Linked DNA regions of Homo sapiens. The protein of the gene in region 1 interacts with the protein of each later gene in a pairwise test. Each region holds a gene or a part of one and is shown in the gene's direction. Other genes may lie near its edges.

Region 1 (7,173 bases):
GGCACAAAATAGTTGACAATGAACACTGTCATTAATCTGTCACTTACTTTTGATTTAGAACATTCTGTGAATACCCCAATTCTGGAAATAAACATGTATTAAAGTTCTACCCTCTGTACAGGGGCACCTCAGGTCATGTTGTGGAGTAGGAAAAAGGAATAAATTGAGTGAAGGACTTTAGTACCTCTAAGAACTCATGTACTGGCCAGGTGCAGTGGCTCATGCCTGTAATCCCAGCACTTTGGGAGGCCAAGGTGGGCGGATCACTTCAAGTCAGGAGTTAGACACCATCCTGACCAACATGGAGAAACCCCATCTCTACAAAACATACAAAATTAGCCAGGCATGGTGGTGCATGCCTGTAATCCCAGCTACCCGGGAGGCTGAGGCAGGAGAATCGCTTGGACCTGGGAGGCAGAGGTTGTGGTGAGCCGAGATTTGCCATTGCACTCCAACCTGGGCAATAAGAGTGAAACTCCGTCAAAACAAAAAAAAAAAAAAAAAGAGGAATACAGGTAGAGGCACATAAGGATTCATATCATTCAGATAATTTAGGTAGGAGGACTCCCCAGTCATTGCGTCTCTCCCCTCTTCTCCAACTTTCAGAATCTAAGATCAGCAGAAGCAGCAGGCTGTGCAGCTCCAATACTACTCCCGTGACCCCTGCCCTCCCTGGGCCCCCGAGGTCACTCTCCCTTAACGCTTATCTCTTGTTCCTACTAGTTTTTCGTCTGCCTACACACAGAGGACACCTACCCTTCCTGTCTACTTCTGTTGCTCTGCTCCTTTCTGATTCATTGCTTCTGCTTCCCACCCGTACTGCAAAGCTTAGCCATTTAAGGAAGCCAGACTCCCCAGAACACTGCTTAAGTGCTTACAGTTATATTAAATAGAAAAATAAAAGAATCAATGAAGATGCTCAAAGAGGAACGTGTACTTTGCACATATCATAGTGGACTTGTCCTAGGAGAATCAGAACTCTAGCCGAACTCATGTAATCCTTAAAGCTCGTGCTGTGATTATTGATTAAAAGAGAACAGCTGAGACCTTTGACACTTCAGAGGCCAGTGGTCTGTGCAGTCAGTCTGGCTTCTCTAACAGGGAAAGGCATGTAAGGAAAAGGAAATGAGACAGCCTGGGACACAAGTTCAAGTATGAACAATACTATCACATGTTCCATAGTGCCTATCAAACAAGTGTATGTCGTCATATTAGTCGCCTCCTTAGCCTCTGGCCCTCCCATAATACTCAAAGCCATCTGGCTATCTGCTCTTATTTGCAAGTAATCAGGAAAAGTAAAGTAAGAGGGTTGATAATATGAGCTTTGTGAACCCCAACTATCTCCATGTGCTTCAGCTCTGACCAGGAGAGAGCAACGTGGGAGGTGAGGTCTATTCGAAGTTGCCAGACTTGACCAGTTAACAGTGCAACGGTTTGAAGAACAATGACTCTAGCCCTTTAGAGGTTAAAGGCTATTGGGTAGATGTGTAGGCGTCTGCTCAGATCACATTCATAATAAACTTGCAATTCCATGACTCCATTATGCTGTATGATTTGACCCAAGGCATCAGAATCAAAGAGACCCATCAGATGCCTGAGGCAGAGATCAAAACAGGCAAAGTAGAAAAAGGACTCTCTAAGAAATGAGTTATCATCATCAGAGCTCCTGGTTCTATATCCAGTTGATGCCAGGCTTTCCTTGCAAATGGGTAGTGAGAGGACAACTACAACAATGTAGACTCACCCACAACCCCTTCTGCTGCTCACCACCCAGCATCCATCTGTGAGGTTTCTGAGCAGTGAGCCATTTGAGGTTTTAAATTTCATTTTACGTACAATTTTATCACTGAGATTTTTTTTTCTAAAATAAAGAAGCATTTAATTTTTTTCTCTCTTCAGCTGTTAGCACATTTAAGTTAGTTCCTGCTTTTTTTGTTTAGGTGGTTTTTGTTCATGATGATTTTTCTTCTCTTGCTCATTGGGATATAAGTGGAATATATAATTTTTTTTTAATGTTAGGATTTGTTGTTGTGCAGAGAAAAAAGGTAAAGGTCAAATGATCAAAGGCATTTGTTGATGACCCAGAAGAACGTTCAGATTTAAGCATTATTACAAGAGATCGTCTAATGCTAAGCGTAATTTTACTTGACATGTGGCAATTAATGTGTCAAGCAAAATGCTGCTTACCATTACTAGTCATTACTTTATTGTGGAAAGACAGCAGTCCCTTGGTATCCGCATGGGATTTGTTCCAGAACCACCGCACCACATATCAAAATCCACGCATACTTACATCCCACATTTGGCTCTGCAGAACTTCCCTCTAGGAAAAGTTGGTCCTCCTCATCCTCAGGTTTTTGGATCCGGTGAACACGGTATTTTCAATACTCACTTGGTTGTGGATGCAGAACCCACAGATACCAAGGGCCAACTGTACTTATCGAAAAATATCCACATGTAAGTGGACCCACACAGTTCAAATTTGTGTTTCTCAAGGATTAGCTATATTTATTGCGTGCTTGAAAACCAAGCAGGTAGGATGGTATTGTAGACAAAGCACAGGCTCACTTTTTTTTTGTTGCTATTTTTATGATCTTCACTTAGTATAAGAGTTTCTGTCAAAAACTGCAGCCTCCAGTACCAGTAGCAAAGCATTTCTAAAAGGTTTTGACTAAGGTACTTAATCAGTGCATGGCCCGATGCACTACATGTATGAATTTCATCTTTACTACATTAGATTTCTACCAATTGTATATAAATAGCCTAGTATGCTTAGTTAGGACAATATGTTTAATATTGGGGATGATCCTAAGAAATTATAGATTTCTCAATATGGTATTCTAATTAAAACCTAATTAGCAATTCACTGTGCTAGAACTTGGATTTTTTTCACATAGAAATAATTTCACTACGCATAGAAAGTAAAGATGTATTTTTTGGAGACATTAGAATTTCAAAAATATAAGGCAGCACATGTGGAATGTAGAGGTGTTAAAAATCTTAAGTGTGGGTTTCTCTATAGCTCTAAGCTTGAACAGTTTTGTATAATCAGCGAGCTTGCCAAACAGTATCAAAAAACTCATTTTCTTCAAGTGCTTTATTTATCTTTAATAGAACCTTCATCACCCTGGTGTTGTAAATTTGGAGTGTATGTTTGAGACGCCTGAAAGAGTGTTTGTTGTTATGGAAAAACTCCATGGAGACATGCTGGAAATGATCTTGTCAAGTGAAAAGGGCAGGTTGCCAGAGCACATAACGAAGTTTTTAATTACTCAGGTAAGAAATCAATTAGAGACGGAAAAAATACAATATTTAATATCAAATGTTATCACTGTTTAACTACAGCTTTCTAGCCTTGTTGTTTAGTCCCTACCTCCAGTCTAAACTACACTAGAAAAGGTTGTAGTGGCTTTATTGTATTATGTGATTTATATCTATATTAATCAGAGTCCACAGTGTACCAAATTAGTAACATGTTTGCAGGTCCATGTATTCAAACTTTTCATGAAATTTTAAAATGTACATTGGTTTAGTTTTGGTTCTTTGAGAATATTTAAGAATGGGTGTCCCTGTTAGATATAGGTCTTTTATCTACATCTGTCTTGGCCGCTGTATGAATACCATCATATGGTAATTTTTTCATTGAAATTTCTTTAGAAACCTATGTTAATCTAGCTCATTTCAGTGTCTTTAACATAAAGAAATTTGAATGTCCATTGTCAGTTTTTTTTCTTGGCCTTTTAACTGGTAGAAGACATTTTGAAATTAATAAACTGGAATGAAATTTTGGTGATTCTTCTTTACAGATACTCGTGGCTTTGCGGCACCTTCATTTTAAAAATATCGTTCACTGTGACCTCAAACCAGAAAATGTGTTGCTAGCCTCAGCTGATCCTTTTCCTCAGGCAAGTATAAAAGCCTCTCTCAGCAAAAAGCCAGTTGGAAGCATTGCTAGCTTCCATGTAGCATCTTGTCACCTTCCATTTTTCCCTTAAAACCTTTATTTGTTTCAAGTGTTTTCTATCCATTTTTATTCATTTGTTACTTTGGGACTATGGCCTTGTTACTCTGGCCTTTTGGTGAAGCATGCCTTAATTATACACAAAAGTGCCTTCTCATTCTGCCTTTTGGCTTTTCCGGAAGTGGCCTGAGAGTGACAACACTTGAGAGTCCCAGAGATGTTACCTGCTCATTAATGGGCAAGATATTAAACCTCACTGTTGTTCTCAAGGACAAGGGCAAAACTTTTTTCCTTTCCTCAACTTAGAGAGTGGGAAACCAGCTATCTCCGCAGGGAATTATAGGTCTGAAGTGACTTGACTGATGTGACTGTCCTGCCTTGCTTCCCTAACACCTTCCGGTCCTGCCTATATATGTGCCAGTGCAGAGCTAATTTTGAGGATTATTGTGGATGACATGACACATCTCTGTACTTATCCTTCATCTTCTTCTCATAATAAGCGCTTGAGTGAAGGTCATCACTTCCCAGATTTGCATAACGCTTTCCTGCCTTGTATACAATATTACCCACTTCTGAGTACACTTGTCTTCATATTTGTCTCTCGGTTTTTGGAGGAGGGAGACTGTTTTTATTTTTTCATTTATTTTTATTTTATTTTATTTTATTTTATTTTATTTTATTTTATTTTATTTTATTTTAGACAGAGCACTCTGTTGCCCCAGGCTGGAGTGGAATGGTGCAGTCTCAGCTCACTGCAACCTCTGCCTCCCAGACTCAATCAATCCTCTCACCTCAGCCTCTCGAATAGCTGGGACTATAGCTGCACACCACTACGCCGGGCTAATTTTTTAATTTTTTGTAGAGATGGGGGTCTCACTATGTGCCTAGACTGGTCTTGAACTCCTGTCCTCAAGCAATCCTCCTGCCTCAGCCTCCCAAAATGTTAGAATTACAGGCATGAGCCACTGCACCCTGCCAAGGGAGACTGTTTAGATGATATTTTTATGAATGAAAACATACTTTTGTATCACTACATAAACCACTGTCTTCAAATACCTAAAATGGAAAATAGCTATTACTTTAAGAAATCCATATCATTTAATGTAAAGGTAAAGTATTTAAAATATTATGGTTGTATCTGGTGAATCTGAACTAAGACACACAGACACACAATTGTGAACGGAGTATTTCTGCAAATCCTTTCATCAACAGGTGAAACTTTGTGATTTTGGTTTTGCCCGGATCATTGGAGAGAAGTCTTTCCGGAGGTCAGTGGTGGGTACCCCCGCTTACCTGGCTCCTGAGGTCCTAAGGAACAAGGGCTACAATCGCTCTCTAGACATGTGGTCTGTTGGGGTCATCATCTATGTAAGCCTAAGCGGCACATTCCCATTTAATGAAGATGAAGACATACACGACCAAATTCAGAATGCAGCTTTCATGTATCCACCAAATCCCTGGAAGGAAATATCTCATGAAGGTAATATCTTCCATTCAAAAATGATAATAATCTAATCCTTATTTGTTTATGTTATTAATTTAAATTAATTTAATTGTAAATTATTAACTTAATACATGCTCATTGTAAAGTGCCCACCAGAGTGGAGACACAAAGACACGAATTAATTTGGGTGGGACACATACACATAACAGAAATTGGGTTATATATATTAAGAAGTAAGTGAACAACCAGAGAGAATGTATTTTGGTACATTTCATTAGAACTTATAAATACTTATACCTTAATATAATAGTAATAATGAATTATTAGTAAGGGCTTACTTATATGTGCCTAGTTCTGTGTTAAAAACTTTTAAACTATTATCAACACAAGAATGTTATGACATTGATATTTTAATGATCATATAACATATGTTAGTATACCAAGTTCTTTGTCTACTGGTTTTCTTTGTGTGGCATTAAAATATGTATAATATTTTACTTGGCCATTCCCCTGGAATTTTTAGGTTATTTCTCTATGTTTAGTATTAGAACATCCTGATGTATCATTCCTATATATATCTCTGATGATTTCTTTAGAATAGATTACCTTGACAGTGTTGCATTGTTTAGAGTTATATTCTTAATAAATATTTCCTTCCTCTTAAAGGACAAAAGATTGTTTAAAAGAAATTGCAGGGGCTGACAGGGCAGAGAAAGTGACTCATTCAGTACTTCGGAAAGGAGTTCCTCCTTTAACATACATTGGAGTGTATTTAATTCTCATAAAAATTCTATAAGATAGGTGTTACTATGATGGCTATATTTCAAGTGTGGATCACGAGGTCAGAGGTTCAAGATCAGCTTGGCCAATAGGGTGATACCCCATCTCTACTAAAAAATACAAAAATTAGCTGAGCGTGGTGGCACGTGCCTGTAGTCCCTGCTACTCAGGAGGCTGAGGCAGGAGAAGCGCTTGAACCAGGGAGGTGCAGGTTGCAATGAGCTGAGATTGCACCACTGCACTCTAGCCTGGGCAACAGAGTAAGACTCCATCTCAAAAAAAAAGAAGTGACACCACTGGTCAAAATACAAAGCTAGTAAGTAGCAGGGGCATAATTCTTACCCAGGTAGTCTGAACATACTTTTTTTCAGTACTAGCCCTACGTCTTTTCTAGTTTACAGGCAATATCTAGTTCTAGGTTCATTCTGTTTGTTCAGATGTTCACCATGTGAAAAGGCTAGTACATTTGTAAACATCTCTTATGTGATGCCTGTTACTGCATATGTTGGTATAGAAATGAGAAAAGAATGTACAAACCGCTTAGGAGAAATTAAGTTATTAGACTGCTATTGGTATTAAATGACAAGAGCTATCCATTATCAGAGCTTTAAGTTACCATTAGCAACAACCTTTAACATCCTCTAATTAGTTGTAAATCATAGGTGGATGGATATATCTTAAAGGAACCTGTGGCCTACAAAAGAGCTATCATGTGTGCCAAAGGAATAATTAAATATTTTTCATAATTCAACAAAGATGAAAAGTAAAGTGTAATTAAGTTTCTTTCCCAGGAGACAGAGAGAATTATCAAATAACCTTGTGACCAGTACCCTTGTTAGGAAACATTACATCTAAATACAGCTAACCATTATGCTTGATATTGCTCATCTAGAAATCCAGTAAAATAACTTGATCCTGTTATCAGAATGCAAATCCGTAATACCACTGAAGCCAATCAAACACTTTCCTGTTACACAGGAATTGGGTG
Region 2 (5,595 bases), on another chromosome or scaffold:
GTGGGAGGATCTCTTAAGCCCAGGAGGTCAAGGCTGCAGTGAGCCATGGTCACACCACTGCACTCCAGCCTGGCAACAGAGCTGAGACCCTGTCTTTAAAAAAAGAAAAGAAAAGAAAGGCGATGGGAGGGGAGGGAAGGAGAGGAGAGGAGGGGAAAGACCCTGCTACCTAGAAAACAACCTTTATTCCTGTAACCTTACCCCACCCACTGCGATTGTCCTGATTCTGCCCTTAGGACCACAGAAAGCAAGCCTAATTTCCTCTTTTCAACATGGTATAAACATGTAGGTATGAGTTCAAATCCTAGCTCTGCCACTTACAAGCTGCGTTATCCTGAACAGGTCCCATAACTCTTCAGGGCATCATCTGTAAAATGGAGATAACAGCACCTGCCTTGTAGGGCTATGTTAGGCTTTAAGATAAACTCATAGTGTTCTTAGCACAAATCTTGAATTACAGCAGGTGCTCAATATTATTCCCCATGACTACTATGGCAGATTAGACATGCTTGAAATTTGTTGACTCCTCCCTTCAAGACAGGGGGTCTTGTTCCCCTCCTCTTGAATCTGGGCAGGTTCTGTCACTGCTTGACCAATAGAATATGGTGCAAGCGACCTGTGCTAGTTTCAGGGTCCAGGGCTTAAGAGACTTGCAGCTACCACTTCCATCTCTTGAAACTCTCAACTGTATGACCTGACTCTAATTGCCCTGAGGCCACCATGCTGAAGAAGCCACATGTAGAGCTCTGGTCAACAGTTCCAGCTGAGCCCAGCCTCCAGCCATCCCTGCCAAAGTGCCAGATGTGTGACTGAAGCCATCTTAGATTCTCCAGACCAGCCCATCCACCAGCCGAACAGCACCAAGTGACCTCAGCTAATGAAACAAAAGAATCGCCCAAGTGAGCACTGCTCCAACTCCAGACCCACGAATCCAGGAAAGACAATAAGATGGTCATTGTTTTAAGCTCCTAAATTGTGGGTAATTGGTTGCATAGCTACAGATAACTGGGGCAACCATTGCCAAATATTTGAAGGTAACTGTTCACTTCCAGATTGAACCTGCCTACCTCTCTCAGCTGATGCTCACATGATAGGGTTTTGGGCCTTAGGACCCCTGTGATCAGCTGTCTTCTGGACAATGGGAGCCCAACAATGAACACAGCCTTCAGGGCAGAGGGGGGTTCTGCCCAACTATGCCAGTTAGGACTCTATCTGGAATAATTTAAGCAAAAAAGGAAATGATTGGCTCATAATGGCTTCAGGCATGGCTGGATCCAGGTGTTCCAAGATATTGTCAGGCTCCATTTCCTTTGTGATTATTTTATTTTTGGGCTCTTCTCACGGAGCCAAAAAGCTTTAGAAACTCACTCAGCTTCACATTCTCTCAGGTACAAGTCCAGATGGAAAGACTATCTGCCATTCTCCCAGCATTCCCAGCAAAAGTATCACTGATTCTCTTTGGTTGGTGGCTGTGTGGCCCAATCAGAGCCAATTACTGTGACTAGGTAGGTGGAATGGCCTAGGAGCTCACAGATGGGACATACGCCATCAAAACCATATGGACTGGTAATAAGGAGGGGTAGTTCTTCAAAGGAAAACCAAGGATATCATCACAGGGGAAGGACAAGTGGATGGCTGGGCAGCAGATCTATATATATCCACCCCTGCAGCTAAAAGGAGAATGAAAAACATAACCTCTCTCATTCTACATGGCATACCTCTCTTAATGCAGCCCAGGGTCACGTCATCACTTCACATTGATGACTCACAACAGATATTCAGGGGGATGTTTTTCCTTATCTAATATCGCTTGGTTTCACTCCCTCATCCTCTGCCAAGTCAGGGATGCAAACATGCACATGGGTCCTCCCTCTTCACCTCTGTCCCAAGCACAGTGAAGCTTCTGGGGGCATGGAGATGAACAGACTAGGCCTGTGGCCTGCTCCACCTTCCCTGAGTCATTATCCTTCTCTCCCCTCAGAGTCAAAGTGATTCAAAAGAGACAGCTCAGGCCCACAAGCAAGTTTTACCGCCAACATGGCTGGCACAAACCCAGGGCTAGAACCAATGCTTTAGGGCTAGAACCAATGCTTTTGAGGGCAAAATAAGCCCTTCTGTTTCTTCACAGAGTTGGATTGTTTGCCTTGAGTGCATAGGTGACCATCTGAGTTATTAGCAACCAGGGATTTGGTATATAATACTGTGCATACATAAATAACAACAACAAAATTGGTCCACTGCCCAGAGAGCTCTCGATCCACAGAGCTGCCAGACATCATGAGATTTCAAAAGATCTTGGCTCTAAAATCAGAGGATGTTTGGATATAAATTCTAGTACAACCCAGTCATTTGACAGATGAGTAAACCAGGGATCAGAAGAGTCCAGGCATGTAATTGCCCCAAGGTCACTGAGTAAGTGAGTGGCCGAGTGACCACTGAAATTTAGTCCATCTGAGAGCTCGCCCCCCTGCCCTGTGCGGTGTTTTTACAAGAGTGAGCACGCAGGTTCCAGGGTGGTCAAGAGGTGTTTACTTTCATTTTGTAGTCGGCCTTCATACAAGGTGGGGGCTGGGAAGGGAAGAGCAGTCCAGGCCATTACCCCCATGAATTCATTTGACAAATATTTATTAAGCGTCTACTGCAAACTTGGCCCGGTGCTGGAAGCTGAAGACACAATTCCAGAGGCAGACAATGACTGCCCTTGGCATTTCCAGTGGTCAGGGGTTGGTGAGGAGGGGCAGAGACACCAATCCAAGAGTCCCCGCAGTTTATACATACCACAGGCACGGAAAGCGCCAGGAGGGGAAAGAACAGGATGTTTACCAGCACCTTCCACAGGCAGCCACGGTCATGGGGGTCAGGACAGGGTCCCCAGAGGAAGTGACGATTCGGCTGAGCTAGAAAGACATTTCCACAGGAACTTACAGTAAGGGCTGCAAGGACAGCCTGTCCTCCCCCGCCCACCACCTCACTAAACTTTCACTGTGGCAATCGGCATTCCCTAAGCCTGCCAGGAAGCTTCCAGTAACCACTTCCTGACTCCTAGCATGACACACTTCGGGCCTTCCAAGGTTGACGATCTAAGGCCCTTACACAGCGCCAGACACGCGCAGGCAGGGAGGCAGGATGTGCCTCTCCAGACAGGAATGTGGACGCCACCTGGGCTCTTCCCCTCAGCCTCCACAGGGGAAGAATATTCTTGTGGGGTTTTTCCCTTCCAAATGTCTCAGGGCGATTCCAGTGTTCCCGCTAGTTCCTCCCTCCCAGGCTAGAACACAAATCCTTCCCACTCCCTGCCTGGCAAACACCTTCTGACCCTCAGGCCCAAGGCAATGGCCCACCTCCTCCCAGGCTGGATGGGGTCTCCTCCTCTCTGTTCCCCCAGCCCCTGAGCTTCCTGAGGACCAAGCTTGTGGCTTCTTCTCCTTACTCTTCCTCCTTGGTGTCTCTATGTTAGAGGGCCGTTAGCATCTGCTGGGGCCTGGTCGCATTCACCCTGCTCTGCCACTCACTGGCTGTGTGACTCTGGACAAATTAACTTCTCTGGACCTGCAGTTTCTCCTCTCTACAATGAGAATACTGGAGAGTCCTTATCTTATGGGTTGCTACAGAATTAAGTGACATCTCACACACAACACACTTCCTACAGTCCCTGTTACACGCTAAAAGTACTCAACATGCAACGGATACGTCATCAGTAACCACCCCACGGGTTTACTGTGATGCTGCACAATTATTAAGCCTTGGCTGCTACAGAGTTGTAACCTGTCTGCACTTCCAACCGGTTTGGGAATGCAAGCAGCATTCCCAAGTCCCGCTTTCACCCGCGCGCTAACGGCTCAGGTTCGAGTACAGGACAGGAGGGAGGGGAGCTGTGCACACGGCGGAGGCGCACGGCGTGGGCACCCAGCACCCGGTACACTGTGTCCTCCCGCTGCACCCAGCCCCTTCCGCGCCGAGGCGTCCCCGAGGCGCAAGTGGGCCGCCTTCAGGGAACTGACCGCCCGCGGCCCGTGTGCAGAGCCGGGTGCGCCCGGCCCAGTGCGCGCGGCCGGGTGTTTCGCCTGGAGCCGCAAGTGACTCAGCGCGGGGCGTGTGCAGGCAGCGCCCGGCCGGGGCGGGGCTTTTGCACTCGTCCCGGCTCTTTCTAGCTATAAACACTGCTTGCCGCGCTGCACTCCACCACGCCTCCTCCAAGTCCCAGCGAACCCGCGTGCAACCTGTCCCGACTCTAGCCGCCTCTTCAGCTCGCCATGGATCCCAACTGCTCCTGCGCCGCCGGTAAGAGGCTGGGGATGCCCAGTGTAGACTGTAGCGCTAGAGAAGCAATTTCTGACCCCTCTTTCTTTCTCTGGTCACTCAATTTCAGGACAGGAGTTGCTCCTTCCCAAAGAGTTTTGGGGTATCTTTCTCTCCATTCTAGGTTATTCGGAGCCCCCTTTTTACCGTTAAGGAGATCTGAGTTAATGGCTTGCTCAAGTTCCCAGGAATCGGTTGTGGACTGAGGAACTCGGCCCCGGGCTCTTAGTACGCCGTCCCTTGTTCAGGTATCCAGGGACGGTTCTCACCTCTGTCTTTTCTCCTTGCAGGTGACTCCTGCACCTGCGCCGGCTCCTGCAAATGCAAAGAGTGCAAATGCACCTCCTGCAAGAAAAGTAAGTGGGATCCTCTCTTTCCTCTACCCCTTCCCTGTCCTCCAGCCTGTCCCCTCTCCACCATCCTCAGGGGAATTAAAGCAGTCTGGGGATGCCCCATTGCGCGGAAATTGTTGCCTCCTCAGTGATCCTTATCAGGGAGAGCAGGAATCCTTATTCCCGGTGTCGCTAGTACTCATCTCTGCCGCCTCCTGTCTGCCCCCAGGCTGCTGCTCCTGCTGCCCTGTGGGCTGTGCCAAGTGTGCCCAGGGCTGCATCTGCAAAGGGGCGTCGGACAAGTGCAGCTGCTGCGCCTGATGCTGGGACAGCCCCGCTCCCAGATGTAAAGAACGCGACTTCCACAAACCTGGATTTTTTATGTACAACCCTGACCGTGACCGTTTGCTATATTCCTTTTTCTATGAAATAATGTGAATGATAATAAAACAGCTTTGACTTGATTCTGTCTCTGGTTTCCTTTATATGCCTTAAAAATAACGGACTGGGGTGAGGGATTGAACTGGGAGGGCAGAGACCTGGGCTGTGGATGGAAATGTGAGCCGTTAAGAAAGAGTGCATTCTGGCAAGCCAGGCTACTGCACTGAGCTTCAGCTTCTGTAAAACTGAATGGCGCTGTGCCAGATCATATGGGAGCAGGAGGGACACATACATGATCACTTTCAGTTTCACGTCAAATGTGGCACAGAAACTTCTCCATTCCTCACTTTTACTTTCAATTTCCCTGCCCAACTTCAGTTCTTCGTGGGATTTTAGACTTGAAAGTGACTACAGAGGGTGAAATCCAACTCCCCAGTGGCTGGAATCTGACATCCGGTTTCCCAAACTCCCTGTGGGGAATGACCAGTTTTGTTTTGTTTTGTTTTGTTCTCCATTAGTCACAGACCTAAACTCTGGTAAAATAAGGAGTTAATAAGAAAATGAAAGTTTAAAAGACACAAAA
Region 3 (7,173 bases), on another chromosome or scaffold:
AAATGTGCAGACTTAGGAGCCAGATGCCAGGTATGAAGATCATGTTCACCACTTTCTTAGTTATGTGCGACCTTGGGCAAATTACATAACCTCTCCGGGCCTCAGTCTCTCCATCTGTACCAGGGGAATAATTATATTGGAATAGACTAGACCAAAGCAGCCCTGACATCTGGGAGCTGCCTGGTCCTATCAGCCAGGACTTGGTTGCTCAGAGCTGTCCAGCCTGGTGCAATTCGGTCTTGCTGTGCTGAACATAGACGATTTCACAGACATCAGCATAGAACAAGGCCATCCGCGACCAGGGCAGACTAAGACAAAAATGAAACTACTCCTTAATCATATCTGAACACAGACAAAACATGAATATTGTCAAATCACAGAAATGACCCAAATCCCCCTGTAGAGCTAAGCTGAGTGGAGGCTGCTGGTTTACCAGCTGTAGCTTCAGCCTTGCTCTAGTCTGCTTTCCTTCTAGGCAAGATGTATTAAGACTCCCAATCATAGTGTTAGCTCCACTTCCTGACAGCATCAACCCAGAACAAAGCCTCACTTCCTTAACCTCTCCCCAATCACCTAACACAACTCCAAACATTAGACTAAGTCCTTTCTAACGCCCCCTTCCTGGGACGCCCCATGATCCCCATGGTGCATGCTCTCCCTTGTTGCAACGAGTCATCAGCTCAGCTTGTTCACCCACACGTGTGTTTCTGGTGATCTCTGGTTGGAGGCATTGAAAGTTCCTACCTCATTGGGTTGTCGTGAGGAATATGTACTTGAAATGATACAATCCTAAGGCTCTTTCAATATGCTTGTCATACTTTATTATTATCCCCATTTCACAAGGAGGACACTGAAGCTCAGAGAGAGGGCCAGACTTTGCCCAAGGTCACACAGCTGGTAATGACAGAGAAAGGATGTAAATTCAGGCCTCATTCCAAAGCTAGTTTCCTGAATCCCTGCCTCCATGCTCCATGCTCATAGGGCAGAAACCAACAAGACAACTTGGGTTGGTGTTTGGAGAGGAGAAGAGCAAAGGGCCCTTGGAACTCAAAAGAGAGCCTCAGGCTGGAGAAGCAGGGTATCCAGGATGACCTGAGTGACCCTCTCCTCCTCCCCTCCCTTTCATGACTCCCCAACTGGATCCTCCAAGGGCTCCCTCCCAGACTGCCTGGCTGCTGAGTAATGCAGAGCCAGTCAGGCCCAGAGTAGGGGTCAGTGTCAGCAGAGTCGGAGGCCTGAGTCACTTCCTGACCCTTGCTCAAGAGCATCCGGAGCTACAGCCAGAGTGGCCACTCGTGCTCTCAGAAGATCGCACCCACTTGGGCGATGAGCATGTCCTTGGTATCCCCACCTTCCTGGGCTCACCTCTGCCCCACTCAGGTGTTTAAGACGTGCAGCAGAGAGGCGCCATCCTGACCTGGTGCCACATCCTAGCCCCTTTCCTTACTGGATCCTCAAACCAGAAGAAAACCTGAATCTCTGAGGTCAGTTACTCTCTTTTGCCTGCGTCTAGCCTAAAATCTGGCTTCCAGGACCCCACCCCAACTTCAGAATCAAGGTACCTTGCACTGGTGCCACTGATCCCAAAGGTCCAAAACTCCTGCAGCACTCACAGGCAAGCGACCCCGTTCCTTAGGCTCTCATGGGGTCTCAGGGCCAGAGTAGGGGGTGGGGGAGGGAAAAGGCTGGGGAAAATATCAGATACCCCAGGGCAGGATGGACTGAGGGAGACATGGTTGGATCAGTAGACATGTCCTTATGATGTGGGCAAGGCCATTTCCTTTGAGGAGCAATTCTGTCAACTCTAGGCCACCGCATAGCCTCGCAGCCAAGAGCAGGGACTCTAGAATCAGGCTGTACTTGCTTTCACCCAGCTCTGCCCTTACCAGCTGTGTTACCTTGGGCAAATTACTTAGCCTCTCTGTACCTCGGGTTCCTCATCTCTAAAATGAGGATAATCATATTACTGACTCACAGGCCTCTTACCAGGATTAAGTGAGTTATATAAAACACTTAATGACGGGCACATGGCAAACACAAGTGTGTATTAAATGACTCTTTTACATCTAATGGGCTGACTCCTCCATTCATTCTCCACACATTTGCTGTTATATTGCCATGTGCCAGAAATGAAAAAGACAGATTGCCTGACTGAAATAATGGCAGGTGTTGTTGTGTGATGATGGCACCCCACCCTCATCTCAGAATGATCTTCCAGGCTGTGCCTGAGGCTGCAGGACTGCCCGGGAGGGCTTGGGGCACAGAGTTTGGGGGCTGCAGACTCCCTAGTGTGGGCCCCCGGCTTGCTGTAAGCCCCTAGCAAATTTCTTTCCTTGTTCAATAGACCTTCTTTTTGACAAAGTGAAGCAGGTGGTCCCCGCCCCTTCCACAGCCCCATGCCTGGGCAAGAGAGGGGTTGGACAAGTCAGGCTGGGCATCCAGAGCCCTTGCAGCCATCTCCTCCCCCCACCTGCCCACCTTGCTCCTCAGAGGCCTTTGTGGTTTGAGCAAAGAATCTCCATCAGGCTGCACAGGCCACCAGACAGGTGGCAAGGGCCCCAATTAGTCATTGTCCTCATAGAGCCTTAGGAAGTCCACAGAAACTGTGTTCAAAACTGCACATTTGGGCCAGGTGCGGTGGCTCACTTCTGTAATCCAAACACTTTGGGAGGCTGAGGTGGGCGGACCACCTGAGGTCAGGAGTTGAAGACCAGCCTGGCCAACATGGTGAAACCCCGTCTCTACTAAAAATACAAAAATTAGCTAGGAGTGGTGGTGTGCACCTGTAGTCCCAGCTACTCAGGAGGCTGAGGCAAGAGAATTGCTTGAACCTGGGAGGCGGAGGTTGCAGTGAGCTGAGATGGCGCCACTGCACTCCAGCCTAGGCAATAGAGTGAGACTCCATGTCAAAAACAAACAAAAATCCTGCACATTTGAACCTGCGTGGATATTTGGTATTATAGAATTAGTGCTATTAATTTTAGGTTTAAGAATGTATTGTGGGCCAGGCGCGGTGGCTCACGCCTGTAATCCCAACACTTTCGGAGGCCGAGGCGGGTGGTTCACGAGGTCAGGAGTTCAAGACCAGCCTGGCCAAGATGGTGAAACCCCATCTCTATTAAAAATACAAAAATTAGCCGGGTTTGGTGGCAGGCACCTACAATCCTAGCTAATCGGGAGGCGGAGGCAGAGAATTGCTTGAACCCGGGAGGCGGAGGTTGCAGTGAGCCGAGATGGCAACTGCACTCCGACAGAGTCTCAAAAAATATATATATATAGTATTGTGGATACGTACTTTTAAAAATCCTTACGTTTTAGAGATACAAAAATATTTATGAATAAAATGATATGACGCCTGGGTTTTGCTTCAAAACGATGGTGGGAGAGGAATGTGGATGAAATAAAATTGATTATGAGTTGTGGTTGCTGGGGAATTGGGGTCACGGGGGTTCATTAGAACCTCCTATCAGATGTGGTTCAGAAGCCTCAGACCTGGGAGCTGGCTAGAAATGCAGAATCTCGGCTCCACCCCAAACCTACTGAGTCAGGATCTGTATTTTAATCAAATAAAATGCCCAGGGGATTCCTGAGCACACTGAAGTGTGAGAAGCGCTGGCTTACTCTGTTCAATTCTTTCCTGCATGTTTGACATTTTCCATAATGAAGAGGTTGTGGGGTTTTGTTCTGCTTTCCTGTGTGTTCACAGTCACAGGGAGCTCTTCCTACGGAGACCGGGGCTGGAGGGAACTGGGAAGCACTGCCTCCCCGCTCCTGCTTGGACCCACCAGCCCCGCCGCTGGCCCGCGCTCGGCTGGGAGGCACCGGGGTCCCGCTGGGCAGCCCCGACCCCGTGCCTGGGCCGCACCTGCCGCAGTGGCTCCGTCGGGCCGGGCGGAAGCGCGGGAGCGCAGGGCTGGACAGGCCCGGGCGTGGCGGCCCCGGCGCACCTGGGCGAGCCGGCAGGTGGGAGCGTAGCAGCCCGGGGCCCCCGCCCTCGCGCGGGGGAGGAGCGGGCGGCGCGGGGCGGGCGCAGCGGGGGTCGGGGCGCTGGGAGCCCGTTGGGCCGCGAACGCAGCCGCCACGCTGGGGCCGCCGAGATCGGGTGCCCGGGATGAGCCTCATCCGGAAAAAGGGCTTCTACAAGCAGGACGTCAACAAGACAGCCTGGGAGCTGCCCAAGACCTACGTGTCCCCGACGCACGTCGGCAGCGGGGCCTATGGCTCCGTGTGGTGAGACCCCTGGGCCGCTGGGGGGCGGGGGGCGGGCGCCAGGCTCTCCCCTTTCCGCCCAGCCCGCCCTGGGCTGGCCCCTCGCCAGCGCCACCTTGACCGCGGACCTCAAGGCCCAGCGCCCTCCCCGGGGCCACCCAGCGGCCATCTCCCTTTTCTCACCGAGTGGCTGAGTGAGGTCTCTGGGGGTTGAGTTGGGACTGGGCCTGGTTCTCCAGGACTGTACACTTGCAAGACCCCAGAGTTCATCGGGCAGATCCTCACTGTTACAGACGAGTACACCGAGGCCCCAAGAGGGGGAGGTGGCTCGCCAAGTTGCAGACAGAGTGAGACTCCCGCCCTGCCGTGGATCCCGTCGCAATGAGACGTTGCTGCCCCTGGCGCTGTGCCCCTCTCTCAGCTCCTGCCTGGCTTCCTACTCCCTGCCCTGCGTCCCGCGGCTCCCCCATATTCTAGGTGGTGGGCCTAGTCCCCTCTCAGCCCAGCTGCCCAGTGGGAGGGGTCAGGGCGGTCTGGGAGATACGGCCCAGGAGGAGAGCCTCGCCTGCTGACCGGCCTGTGCCCGACAGCTCGGCCATCGACAAGCGGTCAGGGGAGAAGGTGGCCATCAAGAAGCTGAGCCGACCCTTTCAGTCCGAGATCTTCGCCAAGCGCGCCTACCGGGAGCTGCTGCTGCTGAAGCACATGCAGCATGAGAACGTAGGTGGTGGCTGCCCCGGGGAGGGGGTGGGGGCTGCCCTGGGGAGTCAGGGGCAGGCGCAGGCGGGGCCTCCCGGTATGGAGAGCTCGGGACAGTCTCCTCCCTGCTCCCCTGACGGTGCCTCTCGCCTCACTATTGAAAGGAGGGGGTGCCGAGACCTTCCCTGCCCACTTTCCAGGAAGAGGTCAAAGGGTATTTTTGGCAGAATGCACTTTGTGAGGTACAGACTGTGTTATCCTACAGAGGAAATTGGCACAGGGGAACTTTGTAATTGGTTCCATGTCTGAGAGCTTGTGGCCAGCTGGGACTAGAATCCTAGTTAGCGTTGTGTCCACGTGACCCTGATAACAATAGCAATATACACATATTGAGCACTTCCTATGTTCTAAGAGCTCTGCATACACTAACTTGTCTAGTCCTCATGATATATGAGTACTACTGCCCCCATGTCACAGACAGGAAACTAAAGCACAGCAAGGCTCACAGATTAGATGGTTAGTCAGTAGCAGAGCTGGGGTTTCAATCTCGGCAGCGAGGCTCCCGGTCTGAGCACATGACCATCAGATTGTCTTGTCTGATAGAAGCAGCTGGGAAAACCAGGGGCCCAGCTCAGGGCCTGGCAGCCAGGCTTTGCTGCAGGATACCTAGATTGGAGGGCAGACATTTCAAAGAATGATTTCAAAATGTTATGTACATTTTAAGCCCATCCTTCTCCAGCAAACCCCTCCCCTATGGCCTCCAGCCAGGGTGATCTTGCCCTTGGCTCTGAACCAGCCCTGTGGCAGGCAAGGATGGATGTGGCTGGAGACCCAAGGTCAGGGGCAGGGAGTTTGCTGGCTGAAAAGCTCCTTCTCTGTTCCCTCCTTTTTCCCTTCCACCCTCCCCTTATGCTTTCCTGCTGCCTAGGTGAGTTGAGAGTGGGTTTGTGTTGCTTGCCCTGACACCAGACTTGACAGCAATGAGCACACATCATTCTCCCCACCTTCCCTTCTCCCCAGCCTGACTCTCTGTCATGATTTATTGCAAACTCCCTCCAAATCCAGGGGATTCCTCTAGGCCTCTGCCCTTTTTACTGCTTCCAAGAAGGTTGGAGACATGCCTCCTGCTGGAGGTGGTGTATTAGGAAAGGGTGGATGGCCCTGTGCATGGCCAGGGCCCAGGAGGAGGTGGGAGGAGAAGGTAGCGTCTGTCTAGCCCTCACAGGTGACTTCTTCCCCAGGTCATTGGGCTCCTGGATGTCTTCACCCCAGCCTCCTCCCTGCGCAACTTCTATGACTTGTGAGTTGGGCTGCACTGGGTTCTGGGGCATTTGCAGGCCTTACATGCCGCTGGGGAGCAAGGTGGGGGAGGGTCTAGGGTTTCTATTCCGGGTGTGGCGGGGAGAGCCTCCTTCCCTGGCAGTCCTGTGCCTTTGCCTGTCAAGTGTGATTCTCTCTGGAAAGATGCTTTTAGCCAAAGGCAGGCAGGAAGAGGCAGGAAGGACTTTGTGGGGTGCTTGCCTGGCAGGGGGCAGTCTGCACAGCTGCTTTGCTTTTTACCCAGCTTTAACACCATGAAGACACATCTGCCAGTCCTCACAGGGTTAGCACCAACTCACCTTTCCTGGGGACACAGATGTGAGTCTGGACCTTGGAGCTCTTTCTAGCATGAAGCAAGGATTAAGAAGCCTTGGCTGCCTCTGGCTGATGGGGGTGTTTGACAGAATGGCAGAAAACCAGAATATTTAGCTGCAAAATGTATAGCTTTGCCTGTGCAGTGTCTGAATGAGACTGGACTATTTGGACAAGATGGAGAAGTCAGTGTGGCACGTGGAGGCCAGCAGCTGGCTTGGTCAAGCTGAATCTGGACTGACCCTACAGGCAGCCTCAAGACCTGGGGACTTTGAGCCGGGAGGTGATATGTTCAGATGGGATTTGGGGGATGCACACTGGCAGCAGCAAGAAAGGAGTAGGAAGCAGCTCGGAGGCAGAGGGGGAGAGCCTGGAGGTCAGTGTTAGTGATCTAAAGTAGGGATCTAAAGCAGAGGTGATGGGATGCCAAGAGCAGACTTGAGGCCCCATTTGGGAGGCAGGGCCGACACAATGTTCCATCTGTTGGGGTGCAGTAGCTGAGTGAGGTGGCAGAGGTGGAGGAATGGGCAGGTTCCTGCTTGAAATACACGGTAGAGGAAGAACAGATCTTGGGGGAAAGATAACGAACTCCATTTTGGACACTTTACTTTTAAAGAAACTGTGAACATTCCA

What was found.
Region 2: the proteins of PRKD1 (region 1) and MT2A interact in binary tests that used the Homo sapiens proteins (3 or more experiments, as listed by UniProt).
Region 3: the proteins of PRKD1 (region 1) and MAPK13 interact in binary tests that used the Homo sapiens proteins (3 or more experiments, as listed by UniProt).

What each region holds. Positions count from the first base shown.
Region 1 is NC_000014.9:29,595,759-29,602,931, reverse strand, and holds part of PRKD1 (serine/threonine-protein kinase D1), read left to right. Parts: intron 1-3,114; coding exon 3,115-3,276; intron 3,277-3,806; coding exon 3,807-3,905; intron 3,906-5,173; coding exon 5,174-5,441; intron 5,442-5,455; exon of another isoform or gene 5,456-7,173.
Region 2 is NC_000016.10:56,604,403-56,609,997, forward strand, and holds MT2A (metallothionein-2), read left to right. Parts: upstream 1-4,181; 5' UTR 4,182-4,253; coding exon 4,254-4,281; intron 4,282-4,589; coding exon 4,590-4,655; intron 4,656-4,860; coding exon 4,861-4,952; 3' UTR 4,953-5,095; downstream 5,096-5,595. UniProt on the Homo sapiens protein: Metallothioneins have a high content of cysteine residues that bind various heavy metals; these proteins are transcriptionally regulated by both heavy metals and glucocorticoids.
Region 3 is NC_000006.12:36,126,472-36,133,644, forward strand, and holds the start of MAPK13 (mitogen-activated protein kinase 13), read left to right. Parts: upstream 1-4,041; 5' UTR 4,042-4,111; coding exon 4,112-4,230; intron 4,231-4,799; coding exon 4,800-4,929; intron 4,930-6,149; coding exon 6,150-6,208; intron 6,209-7,173. UniProt on the Homo sapiens protein: Serine/threonine kinase which acts as an essential component of the MAP kinase signal transduction pathway.